Regions from separate parts of the Homo sapiens genome. Here region 1 is linked to region 2. A link means that fine-mapping ties the variant in region 2 to the expression of a gene that starts in the linked region. Tissue or cell type: whole blood. Region 2 holds a variant in brackets; the other region holds the start of a gene. All regions are shown on one strand. Distances are between the middles of the regions. Region 1 holds the start of FCHSD1 (FCH and double SH3 domains 1). Region 2 has its middle 2.8 kb from the start of ARAP3.

The links.
Region 1: FCHSD1 starts here. The variant in region 2 is fine-mapped to the expression of FCHSD1 in whole blood (TOPMed, PIP 0.91).

What each region holds. Positions count from the first base shown.
Region 1 is chr5:141,649,285-141,653,768 of GRCh38, forward strand. It overlaps FCHSD1 (FCH and double SH3 domains 1), which reads right to left and starts at 2,134. Exons shown (of 20, transcript NM_033449.3): 1 at 2,064-2,134; 2 at 1,736-1,833; 3 at 1,075-1,120; 4 at 603-670; 5 at 111-252; 6 at 1-24. The coding sequence starts at 2,084. ARAP3 (ArfGAP with RhoGAP domain, ankyrin repeat and PH domain 3) reads right to left here. Exons shown (of 33, transcript NM_022481.6): 33 at 4,118-4,484. RefSeq lists an enhancer at 156-734.
Region 2 is chr5:141,682,908-141,687,202 of GRCh38, forward strand. No RefSeq gene overlaps it. Among named protein-coding and RNA genes, the nearest start is that of ARAP3, 2.8 kb to the left of the region's middle. The variant T/C (reference allele first, on the strand shown) is at 2,153.

The DNA of each region.
Region 1 (4,484 bases), 34 kb before region 2:
CGCCCTCTGGAGGTTCTCTGTTCCCTATTGGGATGCATACACAAAGTCCTTACCTAGACCACCTTTGGTCCCAAGCCAGCTCTTCCTTCACCCCAACCTCTGAGCCATACCTTCCTAAGCACCTGCTCCTTGGCGCTCCGCCCTGTACCCCCTGCTAGGTCACGGTATCGGTCAGACGCCTGGAGTCGGGTTTGGCCCCCAGCCACGGTGGCATCCAGCAGGCAGCGCCAGGCACCGAACACTGTCCTGCCCCTCCCCAGAGAAGGTCTGTGTTGAGGAGGAGAGCACTCCACAGCTTCATGAGACCACCCCCACCCCCTGCCCCCTGACCAACACCATGGGAGACAGAGTGCTTTCCCATCCTCCCTTGTCTGGGAGCCCATCAATCGATCAGCCCATTAGCTCAGCCACAAGCCTCACTCCTGCCCTCCACCCCACCCACAGTGTCCTTGCTGGGTCAGCTCCTCTGCTGCTGCTGTGTCAGCTCTACCTACAGCTCACGTGCCTTCCCCACTTGCTAGGCCTTCATCCCCACAGGTTCCTGGGGCTGAGCTCCCCATCACTTTTTGGCCTCTGTGGCCCTCCCCCTCCATAGGGCCCACCTGCTGTCCATCTCACCGCTCCGGTGCCCTTCCCTCTTCAGGAATGGGCCAGCCAGTTTCTGGAGTGCCTGGTGAAAAAGCCATCACAGAACCAAGTTCCCTTTCAAAGACCCACCCCAACTGGCAGAATATGACATCAGAGTATAATCATACCATTCTTTGGGTACATTATGTGCCACTTGCTTTGCTAAATGCCTTATAGTCATTAATTTGTTTAATCCTTACAACAACCCTACATGAAGGTAAGGTATTATTATTATTCCCATTTCACAGAGAAAGAAACTGAGGTCAAGAAAGGTTAAGTAACTTGTCCAAGGTCACATGGCTATAATTACACAGCAGGGATCTGACACCAGTCTGCTTGACTCTAGGCATCTGCTCTTGACCACAATAGGGATAGGTATGGACAGACATTACTGGTGATATAAGAGAGGCTGGAACAAGAGGTAAGGTCCAGAGAAAAGTCCCATACCTGCCCATACTCCCGTTCAATGGCTGCCCTCTGCTTGCTGTAGGATCTGCGGAGATTGCAGGTCGGGGGTGAGGTGGGGGATAAGGTTATGTTTGGTCCTGTTCTCCCATCCTCAGTCCTCTACTCTGGGCAGGAGGGAGCGGTTGGGGGGAGCCAGGTTCCTAGAGTGTAACTACACCCAGAGGGAATGGGACTGATGGGAGTCCTTGAGATCACCTCGGGCAGCTGCAACACAGGAAACCCTCACCTTACTGCCCCGGGCCCCAGCAGGATCCTCCCCACCCCAGAGGTTCATCTGTAGGCTTAGAGGTGAAGACTGATGGGGGCCTGGGTACGATGTCTGCCAGCCTTCCAACAGGTCTGGAAGAGGGAGAGGGATTCTGCCCTAAGGTTGATTGTGGGGTTGGGGGCAGTGGTGTGGAGTCAAGGGCTTTGAGGGAGGGTTCCTGTGTGTTTATGTGGGTGGGAGGGGGTTGGGAGGGGTTAGGTGGGGGAGCATTCCTATCCAGTATCTGGAGAGGCCAGGCCTAGGGTGAGGGCTGTGGATGGGTCGGCTGGGGAGCTCTTGGCCCCTGTTCCTCCACCCCAGCACATGTATATTGGGGAGAAGTGGCGCACAACGACGAAGGTGAGTGTAAATGAAGGGGGTTGGGGGAGCTACCTGATGTCCTCCAGCAGATCCGCCTCCCTCTGCTGCCAGGTCTGAAGGATGCTCAGCTGTTCCAGGAAGCGAAGCTTCACCTCCTGGGCCGGCTTCACCTGTGGGGGCAAAGAGAGGATGAAGACCCCAGCGCAAGGACCTAAAAAACACTCCGCGCAGGGAGCGGTGAGGGGGCGGGGCCGGGGGGGTGCTGAGCTCTTTCCTCTGTTACTTCTGGTTTGGGGTCTGACCCCTTCCGACTTCCCGTCTCCTACCACAAGTCGGATGCCCCCTTAGCTCCCTCCGTTCCCCCAGCCCGCCAGGAGTCCCCATTCAGGGCCAAGCTCACTTTTCGGGGCGGCGGCTGCATCTCCGCTCCAGCAAGGCGGTCAGCCACTGGACTCCGGAACTGGAGGAAGCCCCGCCCACTATGGAGCCCCGCCCCAGGCCAGGTCAGGCCCCGCCCTCTGCCCGCCCACGACTTGTCCGGCGACGTCGCAGGGCGCGGAAGCGAGAGGGGGCCACCGAGAAACTAAACCTGTTACTGCTGCGAATACGCCGGCAGGGTCCGGGTGGCGGGGCGGGCGGGGCGGACGCAGCGTCCGCTGGGCGGTGGGAAGAACCCCAGGCATCTGAGTCAAGACGCCTAAGTTCTATTTGTAGTGTAACCACTGATTCAGCCTGTAATTATTGATAATTATTCATTTGCATATGTAGATCCCCAGTCCCCGAGCTAATGATGAGGAATGGAGAGGAATTCAGTGTGTGACCAGGGAAACTGAGTCACTGGGCACCTGAGCAAAGATGCATCTGACGAAGAGAGGGCTGGTCCCAGACCTTTTCCTAATTCCCGCTTAACTGGAAAAGCCAGCGTGAGCGGGGTGAGAAAGATGCCTGGATCCAGGAAGGAACCAGGCCCAAAGGGAAAAAGACTTGGCCCCACTGAAAACTAAACGATACCAGTGAGTCGGCGAGAGCTGGGAGATGCGCAGGAAGCCCCTGCCACCTTTAGGATCTTCCAGCCCTAGCACTGCTTCCTGAGGAGCCTCTCCCCAATTCCTCATCCTCCTCACCTAAGCTTCTTTGGCTCAGGCACCTGTCCCAGTACCCCTGACATGTCTCAAAACTCCAGATTCACATTCCAACTCCCCACTGACACCTCTGCTAGTATATCTAATAGGAACCTCAACTTTTAAAGCTTTTAAACCTCCTTCAACCTGATCCTCCCCCCGTAACGTTTTAAATGGCACCGCATTTCCTCCAGTCAGTTAAGTCAGAAACCCAGAGTCAATGTGCCTTCTCCTACCCCTACATTCTATCCATCAGTAAGTCCTACAGGTTCTATTTCAAACAACAATAAACAAACAAAAACCTCTTGATCCACTTCCCTCAATTTCCAAGACCACCATCCTAGTCCAAGCCCCCATTATTAGACTTCTGGTCTAATATCTGATCTCCTTGCTTCCACACTGCCCTCACCCCAACCCACTGTTCACACAGCACTCAGAGTGATCAACCTTTTTTTTCTTTTTTAAAGGGAAATAAGATCTCATAATTTACTTGCTTAAAATGCACTTGCTTCAGAATAAAATCCAAATAGAATCCATGGCCTTCAAGGCTACGCATGGAAGACCCTGCTGGTCTTTCTTACTTCAGCCTGTACTCTCCTCCCACTGTCTGCTCACTGTGCTCCAGCCTCTTTGCTGTTCCCTCAGTAGACCAAGTCCCTTCCAATGCAGAGTTCTTCATGCCTGCTTTCTTTCTCCAGAATCTCCTCCTTCCAGCGTTCCATCTGTCGCCTCCAACAGCTTCTTTCCCTTACTTTGCAACTCTTCACAGATGCCTTCCCCATCCACCCATCCAAAGACCATCTCCACAATCACTCTTTTTTTTTTGAGATGGAGTCTTGCTCTGTTGCCAGGCTGGAGTGCAATGGTGCAATCTCGGCTCACTGCAACCTCCACCTACCAGGTTCAAGTGATTCTTCTGCTTCAGCCTCCCGAGTAGCTGGGATTACAAGCACGTGCCACCACAACCAGCTAATTTTGTATTTTTAGTAGAGACAGGGTTTCACCATCTTTGCCAGGATGGTCTCAAACTCCTGACCTCAGGTAATCCATCCCCCTCAGCCTCCCAAAGTGCTGGGATTACAGGTGTGAGCCACTGCGCCTGGCCTCCACAATCACTCTTCAAGCTCATCACTTTGGTTCAGTTTCTTCACAGCACTAAACTCACTTGTTCAAGTACTGGTTTATGTGTTTATTTGCTATTTTCTGTTCCCCTCCACAACGGAGGATTCATAAGAGCAGGGGCCCTGTTTGTTTTGTTCATGCTATATCCCCAGACCTGGCACCAATTAGGTGCACAATACATATTTGTTGAATGAATGAATGAGAATGGTAGTCTTTTGGTTCCCAGGTTTATTGACAATTACTCATCTATTTTTGACTCCCCGAGTCCCAGCTCCCAAACTCGCTCTCCCTACTCCAGGCTTCACGGTAGTCCCAGAATGTAGGAAGTGGGACAGGATAGACTTTAACATCACCCAGGCCTCTGGTTTCCAAAGCATTTTTTTTCTTTAATGCAGTAAAACCATTCCTTTAAAACCCAAAATCTCTCATGGAACCCCTACGTATCAAATATATAAAGCAGGAGCTGCCCTTGTTCAGGGATAATATGTGGGGCTTATGGCTCTAAGAAACACAGTTTGACATTCACTGCTCTCCTTACTTCAGTTACCTCATGGTATAGATAAATGGGCTGGGCCCAG
Region 2 (4,295 bases):
ATTCATGGGAGAAGCCGCCCCTTCTCCCCAACTCCCACCCTAAAATTTCAGGGGGGATGCCGGGGAGGCCTGAAGAGGAATGGCCCTTCTCTCCTTCGCTAATCTTGCCGGAACCCCGGTCCTGGAGCCTGTCTCCCAGGGGCGGAGGCACTTCCCTCTCTGAGCAGGACCAGTGTTTGGGTGTGGGGGGGGGGTGTTTGTGTGTGTGTGTGTGTGTGTGTGTGTGTGTGTGTGTGTGTGTGTGTGTGTGTATGTGTTGGGGGTGGCGGGGGCGCTGGCCGGCTGTGTTTTCCTGTTTGTATGAGAGGAAGTTGGCTGTGAGTCAGCAGACACAGGAACTGTCAGTAGCTAGGGGAAGACCCCTGCCTCAGGGGAAGAAGAGGGGAGTGGGAGGAAGTGGTTCCCACCTCTTCCAGCTGCCTCAGCTAGGGGAGGGACTGTCATCTTCAACCTACTGGAGCCCCACTTTCCCGGCCTTCCCTTTGAGAAAGAGAATTATAGTAATAAAATAATAATTGCAATAGCCATAATAAGGGCTACCAATTATTGAGAGCTGACCGTGCTCCAGGATCTATGTAAACATTGCTTTGCAAACTTTAATCCTCACAAATATCCCTACAAATAGGAAATTTTATCACCTCTATTTTACATATAAGGAGACAGGGAGCATTAAATAACTTGCTCAAGACTCTGCAGCTAGAAAATAGCCAACCCTCCAAGTCTATATCTATAACTACCATGCTCACCTACCACCCTGGACAGGACCCCTGCACCATGTCCTTTTTTTCAGATGGGCAACTGTGGTGGCAGTGAGAATGCTCCTCACAGATCTTACACTGTGAGGAGTGAAATTAACCAATGGCCCCAGCTGCTTCTCTCTGAAATCTAAGGCCAGCTTCCCACTGGGCTGCTCCCAGCCAGTGACAGAGCTCAGCAGAGATCTAAGGCAGACCCATTCCTGGGAGATAGGGGACTCCTTTGACAGCTGACTTTGGATCAAGATTTCCCAATGGCTTTGCTGAACTTTCCTTTGACTGGTGTTTTAGGATGCTCCTCTCAACCTTTATTCCTTCCCTCTCTCCTTCACAGCTCTCCTAGCTCCAGGCTCCCTTCCTCTCTCACAGGCATCTCCCCTAGTCAAATCCTTGCATTCTGCCTTGGCAGCTTCTTCTTTAAGGACTCAGACTAACCCAGCAAAATAAGGGAGCAGGAAAAGACAGTAAAGGGCACAGGGAGTTTTGAGGAATGGATGCCGGGGAGTTTGGGTCAGGGGCTAGATGCAAGAGTTCTGAACCTTTTTGTGCCATGTTCTCCTTTGGCAATACGGTAAAGTATGTGGTCTCATCTCAGAATAATATTTTAAAATGCATAAAATAAAATATATAGGATTGCAAAGGAAACCAATTATGTTGTAATACACATATAAAACCGATGTGATATAGTAATATATGTGCTTCTTTATTAATGCTTTAAATAAGATCTAGTGGTAGGTTGATACCTCACATAACTTTGATGCAGTGATGAGCATAAATGGTATTTCAAAAGATCTGCAATATTGTAATATGATATAAAAATATATGTGATTTCTACTGGTGACAAAGCCATAGTTATGGCTAAAATGACTGGTTTGTTGCTATTGTCATAATTGGAGGAAATGTTAAATTTCAGCTAGAGATTAGTGAAAGTAATATTCTTTTCCCATCCAAGTCCACTGACTCCAAGTTAAGGACACCAATGCCAGATGATGGGGCAGAGCCACAGAGAGGGAGACCTGGCTTCCTCCCTCAGACCCCACTTCCCTTCTTTGGCTCAATGATATGGGGCAGGTGGAGGCTTCTGGCCCCTGGCTTGTGTCTTCCTGAGTTCAAGCAATTCTCGTGCCTCAGCCTTGTGCCTCAGCCTCCCGAGTAGCTGGGATTACAGGTGCCTGCCACTACACCCAGCTAATTTTTGTATTTTAGTAGAGACAGGGTTTCACCATGTTGGCCAGGCTGGTCTCAAACTCCTGTCAGGTGATCCATCCACCTCAGCCTCCCAAAGTGCTGGGATTACAGGCGTGAGCCACCATGCCCGGCCGAAATTAGTAAATCTTAAATCTTAATCTTAACACATAGGACAAAAGGGACACTAGTGAGCAGAGGAAGAGGAAGAA[T/C]GAAGCAATGAGGAGATGTGGAAGGGAATTCTTCAATAGCCCCTTCCATGTCTCGATTTGTTCCCCACTCAAATGATAGACTATTAAGCCACAATCACTTTGGAGGCCACTTTGTTCACCAAAAGTGGATGGTATGCAGTAATTAAGAACAAGGTCTCTCGGCTAGGCACTGTGGCTCACACCTGTAATCCCAGCATTTTGGGAGGCCAAGGCAGGAGGATTGTTTGAGAGCAGGAGTTTGAGGCCAGCCTGGGCAACATAGCAAGACCTCGTCTCTACTAAAAATTTTAAAATTAGCCAAGTGTGGTAGTGTGCACCTGTAGTCCCAGCTACTCAGGAGGTGGAGGTGGGAGGATTGCTTGAGCCAGGAGGTGGAGATTGCAGTGAGCCGAGATCGTACCACTGCACTCCAGCTTGGGTGACAGTGAGGCCTGTCTCTAAAAACAAAACAAAACACCACCACCAACAACAACAAAAACTAAAACAAAAGGTCAACAAAAAAACAGTCTCTAAAATAAAGCCCTGATGCCACCTCTACCAGCTGTGACCTGAGCAGATTATTCATCTCTATTTTGCCCTGTGTGCCTCAGTTTCCTTTTCTGAAAAAAGGAGAGAGAATAGTGCCTGACAGGGTTGTAAAGATTAATCTATGGAAATATATGGGTAATATGTGGAAAGGACCTGACATTCAATGAGTGCTCAAAGTGTTTCCTGTTCCTTGTTCCTATTTTTGCCAGTTACTTCCATGATAACTCTGGTATGCACCCAGCTTGCCTGTTTCTTCATCACTCTGGCATATCCCGTTACCTATTTTAATCAATCAGCCTGTGGCATCCTATTGCCAAATTAGACCACATTGTACCCCTTGTATTTTCCCCAGGGTCCCCAGTTGTCATCTTGTCTGTTCCATCACTTTTGTAACTCAATTTCCTGTCACCCCTGCAACTCCTGATCGCCTCCATGGTCTCCAGTGGCCTCCAGGTCACACTCCTTTCCTGCCCTTACCCTCTGGATGGTAAAAGGCACAGCCATCACCCACATTTGGTCCTGATGAGATGGGACAGGGCCTAGGGGGATGCCAAGGTGCAAGTTTCTTTTTATTTATTTATTTTTTTGAGACAGAGTCTCCCTCTGTCGCCCAGGTTGGAGTGGAGTGGTGCGATCTCGTATGACTGTAGACTCCGCCTCCCAGATTCAAGCGATTCTCCTGCCTCAGCCTCCCTAGTAGCTGGGATTACAGGCGCCCACCACCACATCCGGCTAATTTTTGTGGTTTTTTTTAGTAGAGACGCAGTTTCACCATGTTGGCGGGGCTGGTCTTGAACTCCTGACCTCAGGTGATCCGCCTGCCTTGGCCTCCCAAAGTGCTGGGATTACAGGCGTGAGCCACTGCGCCCGGCCGAGCATGTTTCTTACAGGAAGGAAGACTCCCATTCAATCCTTTCATTTATTTCTCATGTTTTTATTAATCATCTTTTCTGGACCAACCACTGCTCAAGGGTTTAGAGATGCAATGACGTGCTCAGCAGACTTTAGGGAACATGACCTGCTCAAGAAGTGAGACATTTATCAAACAACCCCCAAATAAATGTGTAATTACAAACCAAGATGAATTTTCTGAAGGGAAGCACTGTAAGAGCATATAACAGAGGCAGCTGACCTGGCCTGGGGGTCTGGGAGGCTTCTGCAGGGAGCTCTGCTTAAGTTGAGATCTCAGAAAGATGGGTAGGAGTTAAGCGGGATGGGAGGGAGTGTTCTAGGCAGAAGAACCACGAGTGCAAAGGCCCTGAGGTAGGAGTCAGCCTGGTGAGGAAGGGAGACAGATCAAAGAGACAGGGAGTTTGGGACCAGCTGAGACTGAAAGGATCTCAGGGGCCAGGCCATGCAGGCCCTTGGAGGGCTTGTATGAGATTTGGTCTCCATGCCAGGAGCCATGGGGAGCCAGGGAAGAGTTTAAGCATGGGGCAATAGACTCATGAATTTAGGTTTGAATTTTAGGAAGATGGCTGCATGGAGACTGGTTAGGGTCAGCACAGCCCTCCCTACCCCTAATTCCTCTGGCCTGAGGGCTGTGCCATTTCCCCCTAGACTCCAGAGCTACCCTCCAGGGAGCCCCTTCCCACTTCCCTCCTCACATTTTTGT